Homo sapiens: one gene and its partner. The protein of the gene in region 2 interacts with the protein of the main gene of each other region in a pairwise test. Each region holds a gene or a part of one and is shown on either strand. Other genes may lie near its edges. The genes, in order: YY1AP1 and ZFAT.

Region 1 (3,823 bases), on a different chromosome or scaffold from region 2:
GCTACTGGCCTCCGGATTGAGATTGGGGTTGCAGGTGGCAAGAAGGTGGATTTGTGTCAAGAGCTGAACATGCTGGGGAGAGAAAGAAAATAATGCAGTGATATGTTATGACACTGCCATTTCAGGAGCCCAGAGATATTTTTTTTTCCCCCTGGAGACAGGGTCTTGCTCTGTCACACAGCTTGGAGTGCAGTGGTGCAACCATGACTCAATGCCCTCTCAACCACCTGTGCTCAAGCAATCTTCCCACCTCAGCCTCCCAAGTAGCTGTGACCACAATGCCTGGCTAATTTATTTTATTATTATTATTATTATTATTTTTAGACAGAGTCTCGCACTGACTTTTGGGCTGGAGTGCAATGGCGTGATCTCGGCTCACTGTAACCTCTGCCTCCCAGGTTCAAGTGATTCTCTTGCCTCAACCTCCCGAGTAGCTGGGATTACAGGTGCCCGCCGCCACACCCAGCTAATTTTTTGTTTTCGTAGAGACGGGGTTTCACCATGTTGGCCAGGCTTGCCTCAAACTCCTGACCTCATGATTCACCCGCCTTGGCCTCCCAAAGTGCTGGGATTACAGGTGTGAGCCACTGTGCCCAGCCTTATTTTTATTTTTTGTAGAGACAGAGTCTCACTATGTTGTCCAGGCTGCTTTTGAACTCCCCTGCTCAAGCAATCCTCCCACCTCAGCCTCCCAAAGTGCTGGGATTACATGTGTGAGCCACTGCACCCAGCCACCAGAGAGTCATTAACTAAGATGTTTGCAACTTTATGACACAAATTTTGCTTTCTGCAAAGAGTGTGAGAACAACGTAGGATCTTGGCATAAATTTCTCAGACATGTTCCCTTGAACAAAATGACAGAACCAGAGGAAGTTTAACCTCTAAACAGAGGAGGAACTGAGATTAGAAAAGGAAAAGGCCGGGCGCAGTGACTCACGCGTGTAATCCCAGCACTCTGGGAGGCCGAGGCGGGTGGATCACGAGGTTAGGAGATCGAGACCATCCTGGCTAACACAGTGAACCCTGTCTCTACTAAAAATACAAAAAATTAGCTGGGTGTGGTGGCGAGTCCCTGTAGTCACAGCTACTCGGGAGGCTGAGGCAGGAGAATGGCGTGAACCCGGGAGGCAGAGCTTGCAGTGAGCTGAGATTGAGCCACTGCACTCCAGCCTGGGTGACAGAGCGAGACTACGTCTCAAAAAAAAAAGAAAAAAGAAAAGGGAAAAGGGAAAAAAAACTACTTGTCACAGTGAAGGTTAAATTTCAGAATAGATTACTGAGGACTCTTTGAAATCTGTAATTCCGAATACCATTAGGGTCCTTATGTGCTGTCTTCCCTGAGCCACAGGACATGAACATGATGACTTCTCAAGCTCCTAACTGATGTGAAGATACTACGGTTTTAATACGTAGTAAGGTAACTATCTCTGACATTTACAAAGCTGCTAATTTTAGATTATACCAAAGCCTCAGAGTTAGGCCTTGGTATAATTCAATATTAATATGACCAAGGAAAGTGTTACCTGCTGCATCTGCTGCTGGAGTCTCTTCCTTTGTGCTGGGTCCAGAATCAGGGTCTGATGAACTTCCTTACACTGGGGTTTAACCTTCTCTACCTCCTTCTGCTGTTTGGCTGAAGGTTTCTTCATCTTCAGCTGTTCAAATAGTTCCTTCGCTATCTGATGTTGTTCATTTAGTAGGTTGGCCAGTAGTTCCTCAAACCTATCCCAAACGGGGATGACTGAATTTGAGTGTTTTCCTAGGTCCACAACACATCCAATTCTTTGCAATGATGAGCAAAGAGCCTGAACAATTTTCATTCCCTACTAATCCCCCCTTTTCACTTTAGCCAACAGTCAAACTCCCAGCCTTACACAAATCTTTTCCCAAAGTAGTTAGCATGCATCAAATGATTCTGTATTACACCCCATCCCATTCCTCTACAATTCCTCTTCCAAATAATATACAAATGAAGAAAAAATTAAACAAAAAACTAGGGACAGAGAAATATATGGGTAAGAAAGCAGCCAAGGAGCTGGTGGGAACTCATCATTCTCATTTCTTCTCTCATTACTTGTTACTCCCTGGGATGTTACTCCCATCCCAGGTCCAGCTTGTCCCATTATCCTATCTACTCAGGCTGCACTGCCCTGCTTTCTTAACAAGTCAAAGACTTTCTAGCATGAAGCAGGAAAAGGATATACCAAAATAACTGAAGTACATGGTAGTTCAAATGAACAGAACGGAGAAGTTAGTTAAAATATTATCCATGAAGGCTATCTTCTTTTAGCCCTTTAAATTCCTCTTCCAAGGTTCCTAACCCTAACTTCCCATCCATACCCTCCTGAAAGATTGTTTGCAGGGCTGAAGCAAAAATTCCAATACCTAGCATGTCAGTTCTATGTATGATTACTATACCTTTTCTATGTTTACATAGAAAGAAATAAAGGGAGAATAATATACCTAAATGATTAAGCATATGCTGATACCCTATGCAACAGGATAAGATCTGCTGAAGTAGCTATAACAAGCAGGTTATCATATTTCAAGGAACCCCCTATATTACAGCAATAGTTAAATGGTAACGTTTTTCAATAGTTTTTGCAGATAAAGATTACGTTTGAATAAGTTTTCTTTTATAGTATTTACTGTAGGTTTGGGTAGCACAGAGTAAAAACCTGAAGACCGTGGGACTGTCTATACAATCTTTACTGAGAACTGAAAATTTGAACATCCGCGCTACCACCACTGAAGGAACAGAAGAGAAGAAGCATAAAAAAGTAGAAAATGGAAACATAGCCTGCACTTAGTTTTAACAAGGATTATTTAGGTAATTGATAAGGGAAGCCCCAGAGTTTTTGTTTTGACTGTCTTTTTCTCCTCTCTCTTCCTTATTGTGTTTTAAGATGTGCTTACTCTCTATGGACTTACAGAGGGATTTTTATTTAGTCAAAGATTAAAACAAAAACAGGTTTGTATTTGCAATCGAAAGAGAAGCAGAAGCTGCCCAAGTACAGTCATGCGCCACAGAATGTTTCAGTCAATAACGAACCACATAGTCAGAGGTGGCTCCATAAGATTACTGTACCTTTTCTATGTTTACATACATATGTACTTACCATTGTGTTACAACTGCCTACAGTATTCAGTACAGTACAGTAACACACTGTACAGGTTTTGTAGCCTGGGAGCAATAGGTATGCAGTAGGCTAAACCATTTAGGTTTATGTAAGTACATTCTACGATGTTTACACAATGATGAATCGTTTAATGATAGATTTCACAGAGGGTATGACCATGAGATGATATATGACTATATTCCATTGAATACCAGAAGGTAACTGGATTCTAACAGGAATTTTAAATTAGTTCTATATTTTCCAAATTTTAAGAAGTTATAAAGAGTTGATCAGCAAAACCAAAATATTTATTAATCAGATCCTATTATACGTTCCCAGGATGAATGGTTCCATTCTGCTATACCAGAATTTTGTTCTATGAACTATAAATTAAAATAATGGGTCAAATACTGACTTAGCAATCTTGAGATTTTTGATGTAGTTGTATTGTGATATTTGTTGTAATGGAGAATGACTAGTAGTTCTAGTTTTTAAGACATTGGTTGGCCTATCTTATCTTTTTTCACTAAATTGGAAAATCCCTAAAGGTCTAGCTTTCAGATGGAACCCAAGCTCTCTGCTTAGTAGTGCTGTTAAGTTCAAACACAGGACTAATTACAGGGACTATTCTCTTTGCTTTGTTCCACTTATGGCACAAACTGCATCCTGACCTCTCGCCATCGACCTAATGATTATATGCTGCT
Region 2 (3,823 bases):
CAGCATGCTTGTTCGTTTGGATTCTGCTTATAAACTTGTTTATAAGAGATACTGACTCCTTGATTCAGCAGTAGAATTACCCCTCCATGGCAGCCCTCGGTGTGCTCGCTGAGCCTCCAGTGTGTTGCAGAGTAGCATGTTTTTAGAACTGAGCACCAACTGGCTTAATGAAGCCAGAGCATTTTATTTAAAGAAAAACTATTTTTTACCTTAATAAAAAGAAATAGAAACATAGCTTAAGTAAAGTTTTAGACATTTATAGCTTCACTTACTACCGTTTAGAAAAATATTTATTTCCTTCCCACTTTCAAAAGTAACACAAGTGTGTTGCAGAAGGCTCACATGTCCCATATGATGTGGCATTAAAGTAACCTAGAGTTACTGTTTCTGGAGGTAGTTTAGTTCATGTGCTTCTACAAGTTTTTTGAAATATACTAACATATATTGGTTTAATTTTGTTGTTTTTTGCAAATACTAAATACCAAAAGTACTGTTTTCAACTTTTTTTTAAAAGCTTACTACACCTTGAAAGTCTTTCATTTTTAGTACACAGTTTAAAAAGCTGTGTTTGCTATTATGTGGATGTATTTTAGTTTATATAGCCAGTTTTTACTATTACGGACAATGCAGTGATTAATGTTTTGGTGTATACATCTTTCCATACTTCAAGACCTCCTGTGGAATCCATTGCTAGAGTTGAAATTGCTACAGCAAAGGATATGAGTGCCTAGTGCTTAACTGACATTAAAAACTGTCCTCCAGATACACTGGATCAGTTGACCACCCATAGCAAACCAGTGTGTTTCTCTACAGTCTCCCCAAATTGTCTGTCTTTAGCCTGTACCTGCTGAAGTCAGTTAACAAACTCTGATCCCCAGAGGTCTGAAAACATTTCTCCCAGCTAGAAGGAAAGACAAAGAAAATGCCAGTTGCCAGTGGTTTTCCTCTGTTTCTGGAAGAAGAGAAATGGGGTGTTTTTGAGTAGAACATAAGCTTCAGAATGAAATAGACCTAGGTTGGCTCTAGACTACTCTGTATGAGTTCAGCTCAACAAATTGAACACCTCTTATGTGCTGGGCACTGGTGATATGACAAAGAATCAGACAGTTGCAGCCCCTGCCCTGATGAAGCTTACACTCCATTGTAACTTGACACACGTTACTTTGCATCTAACATTTGTTGCACAATTTTAAGACTGTCTAATAGAATTTTAGTTTAGTAGTGAGAATAAGAGATAAAATATGCAAAGTGCCTGGCACATGTAGTGCTCTCATTAAATTATATTATTATATCATGTGGTATGCTTCATTAATTTGTAGCTTCAATCCTCTATTCTTGTAAATGTGAACAATTGAATTTATTGATGAAGTTGTAAAAATACTCATTCCTTTGGTGAATTCATAATAGAATTAAGTCTCTAAAATCATTCTGTGTTTCAAGTCAGGTTGATTTGTAGACCTTAATTAATTATCTTCACAATATTTCAAGGTCTGTTGGCGGGGAGGTTCAGCTAAATGTTAATCTAGTTACAGGTAAATACACTGAATATTTAATCAACAGATCTAGGCTATATTTTTGTTGTCATGCATTCTATTAATATTTTATTGTGCAAATTATAAGATAACTATAAAAGAGATGTTTTTGCGTAAGGATTTTACTTTGTAAAATACAGATAAAAACTTTTAGGTTATATAATTCTTCTCTCATAACAAATGATACAGAGTTATTATATAAAAAATTTTGGAAGTCCAGAAAACTGAGGGAAAAAAAGTCATTTATGATCTTATTGCCCAAAGATAACCACTTATTATTTTAAATGTGTTTTCTCCCAGCCTTTTTTTCAGCATGTGTATTTTATAAAATTGAGTTTATATTTTATAGCGATTTTGTATCTCACTTTTTAAAACTTTTTTTTTTTTTTTTTTTCTGAGACAGAGTCTCACTCTGTTACCCAGGCTGGAGTGCAGTGGCACAATCTTGGCTCACTGCAGCCTCTGCCTCCCAGGTTCAAGCTATTCTCTTGCCTATTCTCTTGCCTCAGCCTCCTGAGTAGCTGGGAATACAGGTGTGCACCACCACGGCCAGCTTTTTTTTTGGATTTTCAGTAGAGTTGGGGTTTCACTATGTTGGCCAGGCTGTTCTTGAACTCTTGACCTCAAGTTATCCACCAGCCTTGGCCTCCCAAAATGCTGGAATTACAGGCGTGAGCCACTGTGCCCGGCTGTCACTTTTTAAAACTTAATCACATTACATTTATATGCCTTTGTACTCAAATGAATCACAAACATTTTGCTTTATAGCAACAAGGCATAACTTCATGAGGATATAGTGTTATCAACTCAACTCTTGACATTGGAGCCAACAAGATCTTTTAAAAATGCTCATCTGATTGTTACCCTTTTAGGCTTTGTCTTGCTCTTAGGGGTGCAGGGGGCTTCCAAGACTAGCCCTGCCACCTCTGAGGCTTGTCCACCTGCTGTGGTTCCCCAGTACTCTTGCTGCTGCCATCTGTTCCAGCCATCTGGGCCTCTTTTCACTTCCTTAGTCTCTTATTGCAGGCACCGCTTCCTTTTCCTGGATGCCTTTCCTCCCTCTTGCTTAGTTAATGCTTATCTGTCCTTCAGCTTTCTGCTCAAATGTCTTGTCCTCAGGGAGGCCTTCCCTGTCCCTAGACCAAGTCAATCTACCCTGACTGGACTCTCAGAGTGTCCGGCCGTTATCCTTCTCACAGGGAGCCTGATGGTCCTTGTCTGCTTACTTTTATATTTAGTACGTAGGCTGGCCTATGGCACTTTCTGGAAGGTGAGCTCCAGAGGGCAGGGCTGTGCTTGTTTTCATTCCCTTTTGTATCCTGAGTACCTGGAACACTTTTTTAAGGGAATGAATAAGTGAAGAAAGATAAACGTGCAAACAAACTAGTTCCCTATGTTGGTACCTTCGAACAGCTTCCCATTCTTAACTATTGTGGAAAATGAGCCATGAGCACCATCATCTGAATTTTGTATTCTTTCTTTTGGATAAATTCCCATAAGTGGAATAACTGGATTAAGGAGTAGGACCTCTTAAAGTTCTGCTGGATTTCTTTCTTTTTTTTTTTTTTTTGAGATGGGGTCTGGCTCTGTGGCTCTGTCTCCCGGGCTGGAGTGCAGTGGCGCGATCTGGGCTCACTGCAAGCTCCACCCCCTGGGTTCACGCCATTCTCCCGCCTCAGCCTCCCGAGTAGCTGGGACTGCAGGCGCCCACCACCACACCCAGCTAATTTTTTGTATTTTTAGTAGAGACGGGGTTTCACCGTGTTAGCCAGGATGGTCTCGATCTCCTGACCTTGTGATCCGCCCTCCTCAGCCTCCCAAAGTGCTGGGATTACAGGCGTGAGCCACTGCGCCTGGCCGGATTCCTTTGTAAAAGCAGTGGTGAGAGTACCTCTCTGAGGAGGCAGCATTTGGAATAAAGTGACTTCATAGAACTCGCATGGACATCGAAGCTCTGGCATCAGTTCACTGTCACAGTCAATGACTTGGACTTAAGGGTCAGATGGAGGCTGTGTAGCATCCTCATCAGACTCACTATCCTCGAGGGGAACCTGGGCACTAAGGGCTTTACCAGGTATTTGCCTAATAATACAAAAAGTCAGAGCAAAAGATTCTCCTAAGACCATTTAGATCTTGCAGTAGAGGAGAAAATATGCAAAGTCTTGATTTATTTATTTAATTAATGTTATGAATCCAGGGTTTCTTTCTTTGGCATTCTTTGTGCCAATAATATGTATCACCTTCTGGATATCTTTGTCATTTGAGAAAGATCCAAATTACTTTCCTTAAAT

Evidence for each region.
Region 1: the proteins of ZFAT (region 2) and YY1AP1 interact in a two-hybrid assay, tested with the Homo sapiens proteins (one large-scale study listed by BioGRID and IntAct).

Annotation. Positions count from the first base shown.
Region 1 is NC_000001.11:155,675,025-155,678,847, forward strand, and holds part of YY1AP1 (YY1-associated protein 1), read right to left. Parts: intron 1,723-3,823; coding exon 1,524-1,722; intron 73-1,523; coding exon 1-72. UniProt on the Homo sapiens protein: Associates with the INO80 chromatin remodeling complex, which is responsible for transcriptional regulation, DNA repair, and replication. Enhances transcription activation by YY1. Plays a role in cell cycle regulation.
Region 2 is NC_000008.11:134,604,833-134,608,655, reverse strand, and holds part of ZFAT (zinc finger protein ZFAT), read left to right. Parts: intron 1-3,823. UniProt on the Homo sapiens protein: May be involved in transcriptional regulation. Overexpression causes down-regulation of a number of genes involved in the immune response. Some genes are also up-regulated.